Linked DNA regions of Homo sapiens. The protein of the gene in region 2 interacts with the protein of the main gene of each other region in a pairwise test. Each region holds a gene or a part of one and is shown on either strand. Other genes may lie near its edges.

Region 1 (7,761 bases), on a different chromosome or scaffold from region 2:
GCAGTCCTCCCACCTCAGCCTCCCAAGTAGCTGTGACTACAGCTGCATGCCACTGTGCCTGGCTAATTTTGTTATTTTTGTGTGTGTGCAGATGGGGGTCTCGCTATGTTGCCCAGGCTGGTCTCAATCTCCTAGCCTCAAGCCATCCTCCTGTCTCAGCCTCCCAAAATGCTGGGATTACAGGCATGAGCCACCAGGCCCAGCCAGTGTAATTTTTTTGCATAATTTTGGCACCTGTGTAGTGATTCAGCTGCAGATTTGGGGTACAATATTTTGCCAAGGCTTTCTATTTCTCTGTCCATAAGTCTCTTTTTTACCACTGTTTTTTGAGGGAACATATGGTAGAAAATAGGGTTATCATTTTAAAATTAAAACAATGGGCCGGGCATGGTGGCTCATGCCTGTAATCCCAGCACTTTGGGAGGCCAAGGCGGGCGGATCACGAGGTCAGGAGATTTAGACCATCCTGGCTAACACGGTGAAACCCCGTCTCTACTAAAAATACAAAAAAATTAGCCGGGCATGGTGGCAGGCGCCTGTAGTCCCAGCTACTTGGGAGGCTGAGGCAGGAGAATGGCATGAACCCAGGAGGCGGAGCTTGCAGTGAGCCGAGATCGTGCCACTGCACTTCCAGCCTAGGCGACAGAGCAAGACTCCGTCTCAAAAACAAAAACAAAAATAAAATTAAAACAATGCACTGACCTTCATTAGTGCAATGTTATCACTTAGAAGAAATAGGTGGCCAGGTGTGGTGGCTCACGCCTGTAATCCCAGATTTTGAGAGGCCAAGGTGGGCAGATCACCTGAGGTCAGGAGTTCGAGACGACTTTGGCCAGCATGGCAAAACCCTATCTCCATAAAAAATACAAAAATTAGCCAGGCATGCTGGCAGGCACCTGTAATTCCAGCTACTTGGGAGGCTGAGGCAGGAGAATCACTTGAACTGGGAGGCAGAGGTTGCAGTGAGCTGAGATTGCACCATTGCACTCCAGCCTGGGCAAGGGAGTGAGACTCCATCTCAAAAAAAAAAAAAAAAAAAGAAAAGAAATAGAAATAAGGTCTCTGGCAACTGGGCAAACTTTATGCTTTAAGACTTCAGATATGCTCCAGCTACTCTTGTTATTAACCTCTTAATAATGAGTATCAGAGACTTTATGGTTCTAAATGAAGATCAGTAATTCTTTTTTTTTTTTGAGACGGAGACTCACTCTGTCGCCCAGGCTGGCGTGCAGTGGTGCAATCTCGGCCCACTGCAACTTCTGCCTCCCGGGTTCAAGCGATTCTCCTGCCTCAGCCTCCCAAGTAGCTAGGATTACAGGCGCCTGCCACCACGCCCGGCTAATTTTTTTGTGTGATTTTAGTACAGACGGGGTTTCACCATTTTGGCCAGGCTGATCTCAAACTCCTGACCTCAGGTGATCCACCCACCTCAGCCTCCCAAAGTGCTGGGATTACAGGTGTGAGAGCCACCACGCCTGGCCAAGTCACAAATATTTTCAAGGTTTCAAAAAAATCCTCAGGTTGAAATAATAGTATCTTCATCATGCTATATCAGTAAAACAAATGAGAAAGATAATTGTTTAGTGCTATTAGATGCCAAACGCTATAAAGATAGGGCAACATTAAAAAAAAATCAAATAGCTCAGATTGTAGATAACATCTTCTAATAACCATTGTGGAAGATTCCACAAACAGGCCAGTCACATTTAATGAAAGTTATGTTTTAGGCCTAAACTTTGTTATGAGAGAACTTTGGAGTTCCACCATGATTTCTAATATATGACTAAAAATTCCCCCAAATCAGAGCCAAATGAACTCTACAGTTTTCAATGGATAGTTTTATGAAAAATCTGGGGAGGGGAGAGTGTTAAGGGGGTGCTTTTCGTCTTACAGTTGGCAGGGCCTTCATCTGGAATCCCTAACACTGGGAATGCTGACCCATACTCAGAGCTCAAAGTATAGAAAGAATGAATGAAATCAGGAAGGCATGGGAAAGTTGCCTTTCAATTTTAGTTTCTGATTTTGGTTACCGAAATAAGAATACATTACATTTGTTCACAAAGGAGAAATCAGGCTTTGTCAACTTCCACTTTTTTTTTTTTTTTTTTTGAGACATTGTTTCACTCCTGTCGCCCAAGGCTGGGCTGGAATGCAATGGCGAGATGTCGGCTCACTGCAACCTCCACCTCCCGGGCTAAAGTGATTCTCCTGCCTTAGCCTCCCAAGTAGCTGGGAGTACAGGCGCACGCCACCACTCCCGGCTACTTTTTGTATTTTTGTAGGGACGGGGGCCTCGCCATGTTGCCCAGGCTGGTCAGGAACTCCTGGGCTCAAGTGATCTGCCCGCCTCCTCCTCCCGCCTCCCAAAGTGCTGGGATTACAGGCGTGAGTCCCCGCGCCCGGCCCAACTTGAACTTTTAAATAAACGCCTTTCACAGCTTCTAGCCTACCTCCAGGTGCCATTTAGAGGCACAGACCGGAGGCAAAGCAGCTTGAGACACCTGGCTCCGGTGCATGGTGACCTCCCCCACACTTCTCTAGCCGTCCCAGGCTCAGGGCGGTGGGCGAGGGGGAGCGGGCCCCCGAGCCTGCCCCTCGGCCCGGTCCCTCACCTGTGAAGAGTTGCACAGGAACCTCGTCTCGTACTCCTCGTTCATGGTGATCACCCCGCGCACGTTCTCGTCCTGTACCAGCTGCCGAGGCAAAGAGGTGGCTCAGCAAAGACGGTGGAGACCCCAGCGGCCCGACAGGGACGGAGCGGCGGGGACGGGGCAGGGGCCCGGGCTCCCCGGCCCGGCTCACCTGGCGCGTCAAGCTCCGCAACGGCAGCGCGCCCAGCAGCACGGTGGGGTCGATGCGGTGGTACCAGTCCCGGTGCGCCCGACCCGGCACCTTCCCGCGGAACAGGGTGTAGAGCAGCGTCGGGTAGAAGAGCACCCGCGCCAGGCCGGCCTCCAGCAGCGCGGTGGCCGCCATCCCGGCCCGGCGCAGCGGCGACCCGTCGGCCCCCGCGCTCGCGGTCCGGACCCGCGAGAAGAGCAGGCGGGTGCCGGGGCGGGGCTGCCAGCTGCACTAGGCCTCTCGCGGGCTCGCACCGGGTGACGGCGGGGACTGGCCTGGACTCTGGGGGACTGGCGGGACTCTGGAGGAGGGCCCGGCGGCCTCGGAGGAGGGACCGAGGTTTCCTGGGCGGGAAACTGGGACCCCGGCGAAGGGAGAGCGCGTCGCAGGCCAGACACGTGTGAGCCCTGTAGCGTGGGAAACTGAGGCCCCCGCCTGTGGCCGGTGACCTCCCTCCTCCGAGGGAGGGGGGTTGTGACCCCAGGTGAGAGGGGCAGGAAGGACCCCTGCGTGTGGAACTGTGACTCCGGCCGAGGGAGGAGGGGACACTCCCCCCAACCCTCGACCAGAGGAAGGGGGCAGTGACCCAGGTGCGGGTGTGACCCCGCCAAAGGGAAGACAAGACAAGGAGAGGCTGTGTGGCGGGGTAGCCCTGAAGAGGACAGTGGAAGGGCTTAGAGCTTTCAAACAGAGGAGCTACCTGGGTGAGGGCCTGATCCCAGGGTGAACAGGGGTCCTGGGTTGAGGTCGCCTTCCTCCTCCCCTCCCCTGTCCTAGGGCAGGGCTCCCTCCTTCATCTGACCAAACAGCAGTGTTTACATAGCAGGAAAAAATAGGAAAATATACATTATATTAATATATCCTTAAGAAAAATATTATGAAGAGCTCAAATATAAAACCTGCAACCTACAAAAAGGTAAGAAGAATGGTTGTAATGCCAGCTATTTACTTTTTGTTTGTTTGTTTTGAGACGGAGTCTCACTCTGTTGCCCAGGCTAGAGGGCAGTCGCAAGATCTCAGCTCACTGCAACCTCCGCCTCCCGGGTTCAAACGATTCTCCTGCCTCAGCCTCCTGAGTAGCTGGGATTACAGGTGCATGCCACCACACCCAGCTAACTTTTGTTTTTAGTAGAGACGAGGTTTCACCTTGTCAGCCAGGCTGGTCTCGAACCTAAGGTGATCCGCCCACCTCAGCCTCCCAAAGTGCTGGCATTACAGGCATGAGCCACTGCACCCGGCCCAAGCATCTGGTGGAGTTTTTGTTTTTTGTTTTTTGTTTTTGAGACAGAGTTTCACTATTGTCACCCAAGCTGCAGTGCAATGGCGTGATCTCAGCACACTGCAACCTCTGCCTCCCAGGTTCAAGCAATTCTCCTGCCTCAGCCTCCCGAGTAGCTGGGATTACAGGTACATGTCACCACGCCCAGCTAAGTTTTGTATTTTTAGTGAGATGGCTTCAACATGTTGACCAGGCTGGTCTCAAACTCCTGACCTCAGGTGATCCATCCCCCTGGCCTCCCAAAGTGCCAGGATTACAGGCATGAGCCACCGCGCCCGGCTTTCTTTTTTTTTTTTTTTTTTTTTTTGTATTTTTAGTAGAGATGGGGTTTCACCATGTTGGCCAGGCTAGTCTTGAACTCCTGACCTATGGTGATCTGCCAGCCTCAGCCTCCCAAAGTGTTGGGATTACAGGCATGAGCCACACGCCCGGCCCAAGCATCTGGTGGAGATTTTGTTTGTTTGTTTGTTTTTAAGATAGAGTTTCACTCTTGTCACCCAAGCTGGAGTGCAATGGCGTGATCTCAGCTCACTGCAACCTCTGCCTCCCAGGTTCAAGCAATTCTCCTGCCTCAGCCTCCCGAGTAGCTGCCACCACGCCCAGCTAAGTTTTGTATTTTTAGTAGAGACAGGGTTTCACCATGTTGGCCAGACTGGTCTCAAAGTCCTGACCTGAGGAGATCCGTCCCCCTCGGCCTTCCAAAGTGCCGGGATTACAGGCATAAGCCACCATGCCCGGCCCATCTGGTGGTTTTAAAAGATTCATTTTCTTTTTTTTATATTTTGTTTTTGAGACGGAGTCTCCTTCTATTGACTAGGCTGAAGTGTAGTGGCGCCATCTCCACTCACTGCAACCTCCACCTCCCGGGTTCAAGCAGTTCTCCTGCCTCATCCTCCCCAGTAGCTAGAACTACAGGTGCCCGCCACCATGCCTGGCTAATTTTGTGTGTGTTTTTAATAGAGATGGGGTTTCACCATGTTGGCCGGGCTGCTCTTGAACTCCTGACCTCAGGTGTTCCACCCGCCTTGGTCTCCCAAAGTGCTGGGATTACAGGCATGAGCCACCGCACCCAGCCTAATTTTAGAATATTTTCATTGCCCTCAAAATAAGCCCCTTATGAATTAGCAGAGACTCACCATTTTCTCCCAATCATCCTCCAGCCTTAGGCAAACACTACTAACCTGCTTTCTGACTGTATAGATTTACATGTTTAGCATGTTGAGGGCATTTCTTCTTTTTACTTTTCTTTTTTTTTTTTCTAGGAAACAGGGTCTCACTGTCACCCAGGCTAGAGTGCAGTGGCAGCGTGATCATGACTCACTGTAGCCCCGACCTTTTGGGTGCAAGCAGTCCTCCTACCTCAGCCTCCCAAGGAGTTGAGACTACAGACGTGTGCCACGATACCTGGCTAATTTTTTATTATTTGTAGCGATGGGGTCTCACTATGTTGCCCAAACTGATCTCGGGACTGGGCACAGTGGCTCACACCTGTAATCCCAGCACTTTGGGAGGCGGAGGCAGAGGCAGGCAGATCACCTGAGGTCAGGAGTTTGAGACCAGCCTGGCCAACATGGTGAAACCCCGTCTCTACTAAAAAAATACAAAAATTAGCCAGGTATAATAGTGGGCGCCTGTAATCCCAGCTACTTGGGAGGCTGAGGCAGGAGAATCACTTGAACCCAGGAGGCGGAGTTTGTGATAAGCCAAGATCGCGCCACTGCACTTCAGCCTGGGTGACAGAGTGAGACTCCATATCAAAAAAAAAACAAAACAAAACAAAAAAAAACTGATCTGGAACTCCTGGGCTCAAACAATCCTCCTGATTTGGCCTCCCAAAGTACTGGGATTACAGGTCTGAACCACTGCATCCAGCCTAGGGTATTTCAAATAAATGGAGTCATACAATATGTGTTCTTTGTATCTGGCTGCTTTTTTTTTTTTTTTTTTTTGAGATAGAGTTTCACTCCTGTTGCCCAGGCTGGAGTGCAATGGTGTGATCTTAGCTCACTGCAACCTCTACCTCCTGGGCTCAAGCAATTCTCCCACCTCAGCCTCCTGAGTAGCTGGGACCACAGGTGCGTACCACCACACCTGGTGGCGAATTTTTGTATTTTTGGTAGAGACAGGCTTTCACCATATTGCCCAGGTTGGTCTCGAACTCCTGGACTCAAGCGATCTGCCTGCCTCAGCCTCTCTAAGTGCTGGCATTACAGGTGTGAGCCACCCCACCCAACTTTTTTTTTTTTTTTTTTGAGATGGAGTTTCGCTCTTGTTACCCAGGCTGGAGTGCAATGGCACAATCTCAGCTCACCACAACCTCCGCCTCTCAGGTTCAAGCAATTCTCCTGCCTCAGCCTCCCTAGTATCTGGGATTACAGGTATGCACCACCACTCCTGGCTAATTTTGTATTTTTAGTAGAGACGGGGTTTCTCCATGTTGGTTAGCCTGGTCTCGAACTCCCGACCTCAGGTGATCAGCCTGCCTCGGCCTCCCAAAGTGCTGGGATTACAGGTGTGAGCCACTGCGCCCAGCTTTTTTTTTTTCTTAATAGATATCACTTGTGTGTTGATACCTGTCTTATGCTTAGAATGTTTTCAAGGTTCGTCCATGTTGTAGCAAGTATCAGGACTGTCCTTCTTTTTATTGCCAAATAATATTTCAATGTATGGACAGACCACATGTTTTTCTCCATTTATCAGTTTATGAACATTTGAGTTGTTTCCACTTTTGGCTATTTTGAACAATGCTGCTGGGAACATTTGCATACAACTTACGGACATAGGTTTTCATTTCTCTTGTATATTTGACTAATCATGGAATTGTTAGGTCATAGGGTAGTACAGTGTTTAACCTTTTGAAGAACTGTCAGTTTTCCAAAGTGGACTGCACCTTTTTGCATCCCCACCAGGAGAGTATGGAGGGTTCCAATGTTGCCACATGGTTGCCAACACTTATTATCTGTCTTTCATTATAGCCATTTTAGTGGGTGTGGTGTCTCTTTGTGGAATAAACTTTTTTTTTTTTTTTTTTTTTTTGAGACGGAGTCTCGTTCTGTCGCCCAGGCTGGAGTGCAGTGGTGCGATCTCGGCTCACTGCAAGCTCCGCCTCCTGGGTTCATGCCATTCTCCTGCCTCAGCCTCCCAAGTAGCTGGGACTACAGGCGCCCGCTACCACACCCGGCTTATTTTTTGTATTTTTAGTAGAGATGGGTTTCTCCGTGTTAGCCAGGATGGTCTCAATCTCCTGACCTCGTGATCCACCTGTCTCGGCCTCCCAAAATGCTGGGATTACAGGCCTGAGCCACCTCACCCAGCGAAATACACTTTTTTTTTTTTTTTTTGAGACAGAGTCTCACTCTGTTGCCCAGGCTAGAGTGCAGTGGCATGATCTCCACTCAATACAAGCTCTGCCTCCCGGGCTCATGCCATTCTCCTGCCTCTGCCTCTCAAGTAGCTGGGACTACAGGCGCCCACCACCACGCCCGGCTAATTTTTTGTATTTTTAGTAGAGACGGGGTTTCACCATATTAGCCAGGATGGTCTCGATCTCCTGACCTCGTGATCTGTCCGCCTCGGACTCCCAAAGTGCTGGGCTTACAGGCGTGAGCCACTGCGCCCAGCCAGAATAAACTTTTAAATGT
Region 2 (6,891 bases):
TTGTTTTTACTAACCCTGTTTTTAGACTCTCCCTTTCCTTTAATCACCTAGCCTTGTTTCCACCTGAATTGACTCTTCCTTAGCTAAGAGAGCCAGACAGACTCCATCTTGGCTCTTTCACTGGCAGCCCCGTCCTCAAGGACTTAACTTGTGCAAGCTGACTCCCAGCACATCCAAGAATGCAATTAACTGATAAGATACTGTGGCGAGCTATATCCGCAGTTCCCAGGAATTCGTCCGATTGATAATGCCCAAAGCCCCGCGTCCATCACCTTGTAATAGTCTTAAAGCCCCTGCACCTGGAACTGTTTACTTTCCTGTAACCATTTATCCTTTTAACTTTTTTGCCTACTTTACTTCAGTAAAATTGTTTTAACTAGACCCCCCCCCCACCCCATTCTAAACCAAAGTATAAAAGAAAATCTAGCCCCTTCTTCAAGGCCGAGAGAACTTTGAGTGTTAGCCGTCTTTTAGGCCCCAGCTAAATAAACAGACTCTTAATTCGTCTCAAAGTGTGGCGTTTTCTCTAACTCGCTCAAGTACAACACTTTCTAATCAGGCCTCATCAACCATGAAGGGCTGGAATTGTGTACAGGCAGGACCTCCAGCAAATCACAAAAGCAGAAGGAAATAGGGCCAGGCAGTTAAAAAAAAAATAGAAGATCAGGAGAATAAGAAGTCTGGTGCAGGGATTGGGGTGGGAATGCAGGCAAGGACTAGGGGGCAAAAACAAGCACAGCCACTGACACACCCCTGCCTGGCCTAATGAGGAAACTTCAAAATACCAGTCTGTGTAGGCCAGAGGTTGACTCCTACTTAAGCCCAGAGATGGCACTTGGGGGTCATGGCTGATGAATGGCAGTCAATGATAATAACAAACTACAACCACCCCTGCCTACCTTTAGATAAAGAGGCAAAAATAAGTAATTCCACAAGAGGCCTGGCTCAGCTTCACCAGATAAGCAAAAGGCAAGGGCAGGAGCTGCAAGACTGACAAGGAAGCCTGCACTCCAGCTTGGGGACCTACAGCAAAGCTGAGTCAAACGAGATTGCTTCTCAGGGACACAGGCACTCACATTTCACTGGAACAACGTGAAGATGTTAAGAGGCTAAGTAACAACAAAACCCTACCTGTTTTTACATAGCCAACGATCCCACCAGAAACAACCAGTGCTGTGTAGCCAAAGCCAAACCAATGCAAAGGCACTCTGAAAACACAAGAGAAGTCAGTGAGAAGTCAGTGCTAACCTGGATTTAAAAACAAACCATATTGTCATAGGATGGGGCTAAAAGGTAATCATTCCCCACAGGTCCTATGTGCCCACAGGTACTATCACTGAAAATAAGCACCACAGAGGTTGGATGACTTTCTGAGAGTCACACAACTAAGCAAAGCTAGAGCTGGGACTCAAACCCAAGTTTCTGGCCCACAGGTCCAGTGATCCTCCCATCCCGCACGCCATCCCAGGCAGTCTACTCTTAGGGTTCTTTTCAGCTGAGGAAAGGAACTCTGGTTTCCAGAAGCTCCTGGCTACTCTCTAACCATTTACTGTCTACTCACAATGGGAAGAGGGGCTTCTCCATTCTTCTCTTCTCAGTCCAGAAAGGAGACTACCCCAGGCCTGCATCTGGGGAAAACAAGCCGGATCAGCAGTGGTTAAAAGCACAGCTCCCCAGCAGTCAGAAAGAAGTGTGTCCAACCTGCAGGCTATGCAACCTAAGTCTCAGTATCCTTCACTGTACCATGAGGATAACACTGGTACCAATTTCCTGGGGGTGTTGTGAGCATTCAATGGATGTCACATGTAAAGGTGCTTAGCACCTAGTAAACCCTGAACAGATGCCGATCATTTCACATAGGTCCACAGGAAACTCAGCAAGATCCACTGACCAGCTCTATAATCAGGGAATGTGTTAGTCATTTCATTAAGCACTCACATTATCACTAAATCGGAAAGCAAATACTCCCGTGCCCTTAATCCAACTACTTTAATGTCTCTTTTGAGGGGTGGTAGGGATGTTGCTTTTCTTCACTGATGCAACAGCCAATTTCAATACTCAATTTTTTTTTTTAGAAACTTCTGCATCCAACTCACAGTTCTCGTTAGGAGGGCAGAAGGGGAGGGTAAAATACACGGAAACTCAAGTCAGAATCACATGTGACATTGCACCCTTGGAAAAACAGCTCCTATTTTCTTACAGAAAAGTATTCTGTATGCAGTGAACCTAACAAGATGGAAAGCAATGCATACGCCGTTTATTCTGTTTAAAGAATTAGGCCAGGCAAAGTGGCTCACGCCTGTAATCCCAGTACTTTGGGAGGCCCAGGCAGGCGGATTACCTGAGGTTAGGAGTTCGAGAACAGCTTGGTCAACATGGTGAAACCCATATTCTATTAAAACACACACACACACACACAAATCGGGCATGATGGCATGCACCTGTAATCCCAGCTACTTGGGAGGCTGAGGTGGGAGGATGGCTTGAGCCCAGGAGGCAGAGGCTGCAATAAGACATATTCAGGCTACTGCACTCCAGGCTGGGCGACACAGCGAGAACCCCTCCCCACCCCCCAAAAAAAGAAAGAATTAATTTCCCATAAAACGGGGAAGGGCAGCGGGCTTGGGATCTTGCCCACAGTTCTTAACTCGAGGCGGCACTGAGTAAGGGAGGCTTTTAAAGAGCTGGAGCAACAAAACCACCAGGAAACGAGGCAACACTATGCTACAAGGGTAAGCCTTTGCCTCAGGAGCTCAGGTGCTCCGAGCATCCACAGCCTCTTTTAAGACAAGCAGAAAATACCCAAGGAGAAAAGCACCGACCACACGGCATAAAGGCCCGCTGAATCGGGGGGACGAAAAGCAGACGGCCGTGAAACTCCTAAATAATCCCTAAAAGTTAAAAGTGGCAGAAAATAAAAACAATACTCTCCAAAGACCTGCACCGACCTGCCGAAGGCCCGCGGAGTCCACTACGGAGCGCAAGCCGCGGGACACAGCAGCCAGGTCTCTCCGGAAACGCGATTGCGTGCGCGCTGCGCCCCGGGGCCGCGGCAGGGCGGGGAGAAAGGCGGGACGTCGTGGCGCGTGCGCAGTGTCCTTGGAGAGAGGTGAGCGGAGAATGGGGACAGTGGGGGCGGGGCTTGAGCCGCGGATTACCAGCACGCGCCCTGCATCCCGGGGGCGGGGAGTGAGGCGGGGCATCGCGGCTAGCGCCGTTGGCGGGGAACCGGGCGGGGAATCTCTGTGCTTCCTCAGTCCCCAGGCCCAGCACCTGCAGGGCCGACCAGCTCCAGTCCCAGGTCCAATCCTGAGTGGCCAAAAGCCGGAAACCCGGAGTTGGAATTGGATCTTGCACAAGCTGGACCACGTAAGCTGGGCCAGGCCAGAGGTGGAGGCCACCGCTGCGGGAGGAGGGCATCTGATGATTTTGAAGGACCCCATTAATAGAGGGTATAAACCAGGTGCGGGCCATCAGGGAGGATTGTCACTCTGGCCCGATCTTGTTTGTTTACACCAGGAAGGGCCTGCCTTCCACCTGCAAGAAAATATGGCAGCTGCAGAATAATGTGGCGCAATGCCAAATATCCGTTTGTTTTAGGGAGTGAGGCTACTTGAGAAGCATCTTAAATGGGGAGAGAGAGCAAGTTAAATCTGATTTCCACGCAGCTCTGTGGATTCCGAATGTCCACAGTATGATGTTATCTCCATTCCCACTTCCGAGCCGCTCCTCTTCTGTGTTTCCTGCACCACCATTCGCTCAGTTGCTCTACACTAAAATTTGCTGTCATCGTTGACTTCTCCCTCTCCTTCATCCCCTACAAGTATCAACATAGACAACTCCGATCAATATAATCATCAGTGAATAAAGCAAATTGCAGCGCATATTCTTAAAGACAAACTTTCCACTTGCAGCAGCACCTACCTTCCAGATAGCTAAATTGAAGCCCGTGTTTATCATAGCTGCTTCTAACCAGCCAGAGCTGATAATAACTAAGAACTTGCAGGAATTGCAGTATGCCAGACCTTCAATTTAATTGAAGACTTTCCTGAACAATTAATGAGACTTGTCTTAACCAGCAGGGAATGGCTTTAGGGACTCATTCTTCCCTATGCAGGTGCAAGCCTCAAACCTTAATTAGGATCATCCACCATGATCCTCGAGCCCTTCCCCACCTTATACTTGAAGAGGCTGAACCTCAGAGAATTAAATTACCTACAGTCCTGGTCACTGGTAGAGCTATTATTTAAAGTAAGGTCTAATGTCAAAGCCTGCGTCCTTAATTCTACCATATGCTGCTTCTTGCAGTGTCGTTCCTCAACCAGAACACATAGCTCTTCTGTGTAGGTAAAGTCCATCAAAACATGTCATAAAATAAATTAAAGAAATTGGTTTCTGCTCTATTTCAATTAGTACCAGAGTAAAACAATCAATGATTTGTGTTTGGGAATATTTCTAGTTGGCATTAACGTTGTTAGGAGATAGCTTAGCTCTTCACTGGGGGCCCACTGAATTATCGGAACCCTGGAACACAAATGTGTCAAAAGGGTGTAATCAAAATTATGTCAGGGAATGTTAAGTTTCTAGTCTTTGGTCACTGAGGCCTATCAGTAGGTTTGGGTGTTTTGTTTTGTTTTTCCCACAAAGAGGCTTTGAGTAAGAATTGTGTCTGGTAGACAAACACAGGTACACACACAGGTGTGTACTCACACAGCAAGAGCAGTAGAGATCATCTCCCACAACACAAGAGCTCATGAAGAAAGGGAATTGAGCTTCAATGTAAGCATTAGTTTAGCATTTTTGGAGCCTGAATGTGTTGACTTTACAAATTAAGAAGTCCCTGAACAAAAACGTCAAAAACAAATCCCAAGTTGCAGTCTGCCCAGGTAATTCATGTCTATCAAGTGTCTACAATACCAATTTCTACATCTTTGGGAGTATTTTATAGGTTTGTTTGAAGAGCAAGGTCAATAACTCTTTCCCCAAGAAATAAATGAAATCATAAAAAAAAAACCGCCTATTTTCTTAACCTAACCTATCTGCCATCTACTTCTGGATCATATTCATTGGAGCCATAAAAATATTAGCAGAAGCATATGCAGTTCTTATTATCTGCCACTGTTGGAAGCGCTTTACATATGTTAACTAACTTACACTTCATACCAACTCTGTGCAGTGACGACTATGATTATCTCCTGCTTTACACATGGAAGAAATTGAGGCACAGACTACAAGGTCACACAGCAAATGGCAGAGCTGTCCTAACTCTGCATTTGTTTCTTGCAGTGAAGAGTCTTTTTTCTGTCTCTTAGTCTGTTCTCAACACAGTGACCAGAGCACTTGGGTTAGAAGTCTGACTGTGCCATTTCTCTCCCCAAAACCCTCTGGTGGCACCCCTTTTCTCAGGCAGTGCTTTGCAAAGCCCCACACATCCTCCTCCCTGACATCAGCATCTTCTCTTTCCCCCTCACTTGTGTTTCCTTCTTGCCCTCAGCTGCTTCATCTGCCTGGAACGCCTCCCCAGACAATCTCCTGGTTCACGCCCTCTCCTCCTTTCTGTCTTTACGCAAATGTCACTTCTCAGAGAGACCTTCCCTAATCACCTGATTTAAAACTTCAACTCATCTGCATTTCCCCCGACAGCATCTTTCCTTCCATGACAATTCCCTGCTAACCTGCTCTGTAACTGGCTTAATCATCGTAGAGCCTACCTCCCCCTTTTTTGCATGTTTGTTTCATGGGAGTGATGATATTTATGCAGCATTTAGCACAGTGCCTGGCCCATAACCAGTACTCAGTAAACATGTGTTGAATGGACAAGTAGATGTGGAGTGAGAAATGAGAGGGGTGGTCGGCAGACAGGAGAACAAAGGCCACATGTACAGTTTGCCCTGGCTGTACCCTGGCTCTGGTTCTTCCTGCCTTGGCCTCAGCCAGATACACCTGTGTCCTTCTCATGTACTTACCCCCACGTCCTCTGTTGAAGCTTAGGACATCCAGAGTTGCATTTGTTTCTTGCAGTGAAGAGTCTTTTAAAATCTGAAATAGGCTGTGAGCGGTGGCTCACGCCTGTAATCCCATCACTTTGGGAGGCTGAGGCACATGGATCACCTGAGGTCAGGAGTTCGAGACTAGCCTGGCCAACATGGTGAAACGCTGTCTCTACTAACAATACAAAAAAAAAAAAATAGCCGGGTGTGATGGTGCACGCCTGTAATCCCAGCTACTCAGGAGGCTGAGATGGAAGAATCGCTTGAACCTAGGAGGCAGAGGTTGTAGTAAGCCGAGATCACTCTACTGCACTCCAGCCTGGGTGACAGAGGGAGACTCCATTTCCAAAAAAAAGAAAAGAAAAATGAAAAATTGAGTTGACATCATGGGCCCTGTGTCATTCAAAAACTCAACATTTCACTAATCAGTCAAGCTGCCCATGACTGCCCCAGGCCATTGCATTCAATATGTTAATTTATTTACCAAAGCTGTGTCTTTCAGAAGGGTTGTGTTTTTCCTTTTAGCCCTCAGAATCTAGGATAGCACCTGGCACACATGGTGAGCACTCACTTCATGGCTGTCGGATAAACAATGGAGCAAGGAAGGTGGAGATGGATGCTTACACATGGGGAATTGTATCAGGAAGGAGTGTATGTGTGATTAAAACCTGTTCTACATAAATAGAAAAGTTGATCATTCAACACATGGACGGCTAAGACTATATGCAGACTATCCATTCTCAGGAAGAAAAGGGAAGCAATCTACCTGACTTCCCCAAATGGATTCCGTATTTTGATATGAATTGTTATCATGTGGGAAATGCGATGGCCTCCAGGTATACTACCTCAGAGATCAGTGAGCAGAAAAGCTCACAGATCAAATTAAAATGCTTGAATCTCT
Region 3 (7,025 bases), on a different chromosome or scaffold from region 2:
CTTCTTTTAGTGACCATGAGACATGCTAGGTCTCAAAATGAATTAAAAGAAAGTGTCAGACAGAATTCCAGGTCTTTAAAATGTTTACATACTACGAATCCTTGTAGTTGCATAAGCCGGGATCATGGAGTCCACAGTTAACTCAGGATGTAAAATGCAGCCATGTGTATAGGCATCCATTGGCAAGGAGTCAAGCAGCTCTCGGTAATGTTGTACCCGTGGGTAATACATGCTTTCTTTATCAGGCATTAACCTGGGTGTTCTTTCTAAAATACACACACACAAATATTGAAGAAAAAGTTACACATGAGTTGTTACACTCAAAAGCAAAACAAAAACACTATCCACTCATCATTAACATTTTCAACATATCTGTATATTCAAAAAACACTGTCTCCTCACCTCAGACATTCATTCAAAGTTTGAAATGGCCTGATGCACCAGACAAGATCCCAAACCATAATCACATTGGTATTCTCTCATTTCTTCACCTTGCAAACTGCACTCAGCCCTCAAGGCCCAGTTATTTATGCCATTTATTCCATGAAGCATTCCCTAACCTCCTACAACTGCCAACATCTGACTGGCTCACATGTGCCTTCTTCTATACATCCATAACACATTACACACACTCTGTTACAGCCCTTATCACACTGTAATTCATTGCATCTTTTTTCCCCATGACTGTCTTCAGGGAAAGGAACCTGCAATCCAGAGTCTAGCACAGTTCTCCACACACTTGAGGCCCTCAATAAAGTTTGGTTAATTGAATGAGGGCTCATTATGGAAAGATAATCAGGGGCTACTCTTTTCTAGGTGCCAACCAACATCAAGAGTGACCCTACTGACACATGTGAATGTGAATGACAATCTATATGGAACAGGAAAGGCCTTTGCTCAAATATCGCAGGTGCACTTTCCCCAGGAATTTCTAACAATTATCTCTGGAAAGTGGGTTCTACATACATCCTTATTTGCTAGTTAAAATCCAAACTGTAGAGTCCTTGAGGGCAGGGACCATGTACTGCTCTCTGTTAAATCCCCAGTGCCTAGTATAATGTTTGACATGTAGTAGGTGTTTAATAAATTACAATGAATACATTCCAAAATTTCCAATTATTATATAGATTACTTGAGCTGGAGAAGTGCTGCAGGAGTTAACATGTACACTCAGATACAAGGGCTGAAAATTTCTCCCAAGATCCCACAGCTAATTAGAGGCAGAGCTAGAACTAAAGTCATCTGATTCCTAATGTAATGTTCTCTTTGATTATACCATCATAACATTTTCAAAGGATTTTCATTTCATAGACTATCGAAAAAGAATAAAAGTGAAGGATGCAACCCAAAGGTCAGGGCTATGTCCCTTCAGAATCTCTTCCTATCTCTGGCTGTCAAACTGTCCCTAAAAAATGTCAGGTCTAATAACTATCACAATTTCAAAATATTAAGATATCTGCAATAACTTAACCATGAACATATCTGTGAGTTCTATTGGTTATCAAAGCCAGAAGCACTCCTGATATTGCCATGGATTGTGCCTACATTGCTAATGGAAGGAAATAATTCCTTTAAATAGAGATACAATTATTCCCTATCCAAGATCTCAAATCTCCTGAATTCTATTCATAAACCCCTAAGCGCAACAGTTCTCACACTATGGTCTGAGGATCCCTGGGTTTTCCTAAAACATGTTTGGGGGATCTACAAAGATATTTTTATAGAAATACTAAGACGTTAATTACTTTTTCACTCTTATTCTCTCTCAAGTGTACAGTAGAAGTTTCCAGAGGCTACAGGAAACATGACTCTATCACTCTGACAGCTAGTGGGATTGTGCTTAACCAGGCTAATATTTTAAGTTTTCTCAGTTTTGCTTTCTAAATGGTAAATATTGATAGCTATGATCCACATAAACAAATGCTCTCTGGTATCCTCAAAGACAAAGGGGTATAGAGACCAAAAAGTTTAAGAACTAATGCTTTAGGGGTCCAAGAACCTCAGGCTAATAACCCTAAATAGTACATTTTCAAATGCTTCCCAAAAGGTCCAAGTAATGGCTAGTGGCTCTGGCTGCTTTCTGGTACTGGGCCCTGGGGCTTCTCTCCAGAAGAGCATACCATTTCCTTCCTAGGAAAGTGAATGAGAGCAGGAAAAACAATGTCTAATTGCTTTCTGGGGAAGATCCATCAGGCCAAGCCCAAATTCTTCAAGGAGGACAAATGTTTAAATCCATGAAAATAATTTTCTTCTACTCAGTGTGCCGTTACTGTCTAACCATTTCCTGAAGCACTCTGTCAGAGCATGAGATACCCACTGAACCCAAGTTATCTCCCCATCTCTCTTTCTTTGTGCGCATCAAGCATGCCCTCTCCAGTATCACAGGGGCACTGCGCTGCCATCCTCACACTGAAGCACAACAGTATCTGCTGCTTCTGATAAAAGAGTTTTTCAAAGGAAAACTGGGAATTTCCTTTGAATTATAGAGGAGATCTTCCCTCTCAATCCCATCCTATTTTATTTTCCAGTTCTTCCGTAGAGTACCTTTATCAAAATACCAAAAGCAAGAATTTTTTTCTCAGTAATGTACCTCAATCAGGAGTGGGAAAGCAACATAAGGCATAGCGGGGCAGGACAGAGAATTAGGGAGTTTTAAGAAGCAGGCAATGAGAGGAGGTCCCAGCATTGGGGAGTGGGATTGCAACAGTGGAAATGAGGCTTGGTATTAAGCTAGAAGAACAAATAAGTTGGCACAAGATCCGACTTGCCGGAAGAACTGAGTAGGGGAAAAGTTTTATATTACACATAAATTTAGGCAGCAAATTATAAACCAGCAGATAGACATAAAGCAGAAAGATTTGATAAACAGCAGAGGAAACCAAAAGAAGCAAAAAATAAAATCAGAAAGAAACAATAAAAGCATTCTGCAGCCATGTAATGGAGACAAATGGGCCTCTACATTCTCAAGTCCCTGTAATGCTGAGTAAAATAACAATGGCTCTGAGCCATTTTTTTAAATTACATTTGGTTTTCCCAAGAGTAAAACATAAAAAGAAATTAGGGGCTTAAAGGCATAAGTTTTCATTATTTTACAAAATTCACTACTCTGGTTACCCATCTTTCCTAGTAAAGGCAGATAAAGGAGGCATTATTATGCCTTGTTTTCAAGAAAGACTCCCCTAGGTCTACTTGTACAACTTTCAAGTCTCCCTTACTACTAGCTCAATGGAAACAGATTAGATTTCATTCCTCACTCTAGCCCTTTGCTGTTTATTTTACTTAGACTGTATAGTGATTGCATCAGTATATAATATGCATAATACAGCTGAATAATATTGTACCCTTCAACTAGTCACACACTAGGCTATTTTTAAAAAATTCAATAATAGGCTGGGCACGGTGGCTCATGCCTGTAATCCCAGCACTTTGGGAGGCCAAGGCAGGCAGATCACGAGGTCAGGAGATCGAGAGACCATCCCGGCCAACATGGTGAAACCCCGTCTCTACTAAAATACAAAAAATTAGCCGGGCGTGGTGGTGCGCGCCTATAGTCCCAGCTACTCGGGAGGCTGAGGCAGGGGAATCGCTTGAACCCAGGAGGTGGAGGTTGCAGGGAGCCGAGATTGCGCCACTGCACTCCAGCCTGGTGACAGAGCGAGACTCCGTCTCAAAAAAAAAAAAAAAAATATATATATATATACACACACACAAACACACACACACACACACACACACACACACACTAAATAATATTAAACAATTAAGTTATGACCTGAGGCAAAAGATATGGTAGCAAACTGATTGATTACAATTCAGTGCTGTCATAACTCTTGAACTAGAAAGAGCAAATCTAAATACAGATAAGAAAAAAAACAAAAAGACCCGGTGTCAAATTATATCAGTTCACTGTATGCATCCAGGATTTTGAGACAAATTTATAGCATTATTGTCAATAAATTTTATGCACTATACATTAAATGTTTAACTACTTTTAACTGGTATTACAGTTAAGACTTTTAACAGAAACATTTTTAATGATGGAAGCAAAAATTCCTTTATCAGACAGTTTGTTCCAATTGTTAGATACATATTATATAGAAAGAGGGCCTCTGAATTTTAATACCCCCAACCTGTCTGCTAAAACTGGACAAATCACAAAGAGAAGAAAAGTTACTTTTTAAAGCAACTTTTACTGACACAATAATCAAAGACTGATATTCTTTTCCATGCCATATGGTATATTTTCTCCACATTTTGTGCTAATCTGCAATTTCAGTATATGTGCTAAAAGGCCTATATTCAACTATATACAAGAGCCTTTTCTTGATGAACACAAATATAAATATTAATTGGTAATTCCTTAAATAACTATTTTTAATATAACAGTGACATCAGAATTAACGTTCTTTTTTAAATGTTACATTTGATGAAATTCAAATGTAACATTTAAATGTATTTTATAAATAACATTGTATCTATAAATTTAGATATCCTAATAAGATTTACGTGATTTTAATATCATACTAGAATAGTTTATTTCCAAACTAAATTCTATTTCCTAAGAATAAATTATATATCTAGACATAAGACATGAACGTGATGTTCAGAGAACTGTTACATTAAATCACAAAAATCCATTATTCTTGATTCCAGGTTACCAGAGTTATTTGGTAGTAATACATATGTTCTAGTATTTTATAGTTATTCCATATAATTTTGATTAGTAGCCAAGTTAAATTTTATTTAAAGAGGTTATGAGTACAATAGATAGATTGAAAAATCCACATTTGTGTGTACATTCACCTTGTCACATCCATTCTTTCTCAGTTTACCTAGTTTGCTTACTCTCATACCTTATCTAGCTTAATCAATTGCTTGCTGTAAAATAACTATTCCTCACCACATGCTCAGAGTTAAAGAGGTATCATGTACATGAAAGAGTCTATAAAACTGTACAGTAATAGCAAGTATATATGTTAAGGACAGATTTGGAATTATCAGCAAACTTATAGAAAGAAATTATCTTTGAAGACTAGCAAGCTGCTAATGATTTCGGATCTTTAAAACATCTCTGAAGTATCCCAGGACCCTATACCAAATTAATACCCAATAAATGGTTACTTAAAGAATAAATGAAGAGATAGCTCTCGGCCAGCTCTTAGTTTGGCAGTCAGGAGCATCATTCATGTCTATACCATTCTTCTGTATGACTGCTTTCCAAAAAAAAATCAAATACAGCCATTATCCAACAGATATTCACTATTTCAGGCTATGACTTGAAAAGGGTGACCTCAGCTACCAAACTACCAATTATTTAATGAACTATCCCGAAAGTACAAGGATAGAAATATGTAAATGTAAACAAAAAAGTTGAAAAATGTTTCTAGATCAGCAAGTCATCGTTTTTCGCATAATCCCCACTGGATCGATAACAAGGGACAGCAAATAACAGTGAAGGACATACTGGTTCACTACATTCTGTTCTTTAGAGGAATGGCTACACTTACAGTCTCCTGTCATGACCATGGGCGACTGCACACCTCATGAAATCCATCCACTTATTCTATCTCATCAACATTCCTCAAAGTTACATCCATAATTGGACAAAATGTCAACTATTCCAAACAGCTCAGAATGCAGAGGGTTACAACTCACCCTGTTCTCAACAAAATTTACAGTTTTCAAAGAACCTGAAATCACACTAGCCATTTGTTTTAACATTGGTAACTTACTATCTATTAACCAGGTTCCCCATTCTTTTGGAATGCAGCTGGTTTTTTAAAACAAAAGTCTCATGCCTATTTTCCTCATAGCCATTTTACATTTAGCCTTGTTAAACTTTATCTTATTTTTCCATTTTGTTGTATTTCCATAAGAAATATTTTATAAGCTAGTCATCACTTTGACTATTTACCTTTTCTGTCATTCACAAATGTAATCGTATTTCTTCCATGTCTATTCAAATCATTGATTTGTTAGGCTCAAGTCAAAAAAGAAGCCTACAAGAACATTACAAGGGATCCCTGTACAGGCTAACATCTGTTTCAATAATTTATTCATTTTAATCATTCAAAATATTTATTAAGCACCTATTAAGAAACATTCACTGTATAAGGCATTGGGGATAATTTTTCATAAGATACACTATTCCCAACCTCATGGTACTTACAGTGGTGTACAATTCAAACATTTAAAATAAAGTATAAAAACAATTATAAGTAAAATGAGAGTCTATAGTTGAAGAGGTAATCTGGTATGAGAAATCTATAAAGTAATATTCTTTAATATGGTAGTTTATTCATCTGCAAATGTGCGTTACAATCTTCTAGCTATATTTGCTCCTTTATTCCACAAGGGTATATGTAACGTAATCGCAAATGTTCTACTTAAATCAAGATATACTATATCTAGAACCATGCCTGGCACATAATAGACAGTTTTTTAGAAGTGTTAGGGACATTCTCCAGCAGTGTAAAACTTAAATTGGTTCCTTTCACTGAGATACACAAAAATTTTAACATATTTAAATAACTATTCACAATCTATTCTAAATTTCCACCAGATTTAAAGACAGTAATTTACACCAGTGCTTACTTAACTAAACACTAATTTATAGCAGTATTCTCAAACTTTAATGTACATACGAATCACATGGGGCTCTTGTTAAAACAAAGATTCTAATTTGATAGGTCTGCAGAGAGCTCTAAGGTTCTGCAGTTCTAACAAGCTCCCAGGTGACACCAATGCTGCTGATGAATGGAACATACAATTAGTAGCAAGGGTTGGTAGAATTCACTTTTCCCCGTCTTTGACAATAGGATGTTTGTCTATCTTGTCTGACTTTCATTCTCCATGAGTTCTTAAAGATAAAGCATCTTAATTATAATTGTGATAACGCTGTTTTTAAAATTTCAGTACTCTGAGATAAACTTCTTCTTGACCTCGATTTATATAACTTAGCCTTGATTTATATAAACTATTGTTCTCTTGCTGTCGTCCTATCTACCATAAGTTTTGGGTCCCTT

What was found.
Region 1: the proteins of TMEM14B (region 2) and PTPMT1 interact in binary tests that used the Homo sapiens proteins (3 or more experiments, as listed by UniProt).
Region 3: the proteins of TMEM14B (region 2) and GDAP1 interact in binary tests that used the Homo sapiens proteins (3 or more experiments, as listed by UniProt).

Annotation. Positions count from the first base shown.
Region 1 is NC_000011.10:47,560,838-47,568,598, reverse strand, and holds the start of PTPMT1 (phosphatidylglycerophosphatase and protein-tyrosine phosphatase 1), read right to left. Parts: upstream 3,001-7,761; 5' UTR 2,977-3,000; coding exon 2,803-2,976; coding exon of another isoform or gene 2,694-2,802; coding exon 2,613-2,693; intron 1-2,612. UniProt on the Homo sapiens protein: Lipid phosphatase which dephosphorylates phosphatidylglycerophosphate (PGP) to phosphatidylglycerol (PG).
Region 2 is NC_000006.12:10,743,939-10,750,829, reverse strand, and holds the start of TMEM14B (transmembrane protein 14B), read right to left. Parts: upstream 3,026-6,891; 5' UTR 2,949-3,025; intron 1,629-2,948; coding exon of another isoform or gene 1,585-1,628; coding exon 1,562-1,584; intron 1,209-1,561; coding exon 1,132-1,208; intron 1-1,131. UniProt on the Homo sapiens protein: Primate-specific protein involved in cortical expansion and folding in the developing neocortex. May drive neural progenitor proliferation through nuclear translocation of IQGAP1, which in turn promotes G1/S cell cycle transitions.
Region 3 is NC_000008.11:74,353,378-74,360,402, reverse strand, and holds part of GDAP1 (ganglioside-induced differentiation-associated protein 1), read right to left. Parts: intron 267-7,025; coding exon 93-266; intron 1-92. UniProt on the Homo sapiens protein: Regulates the mitochondrial network by promoting mitochondrial fission.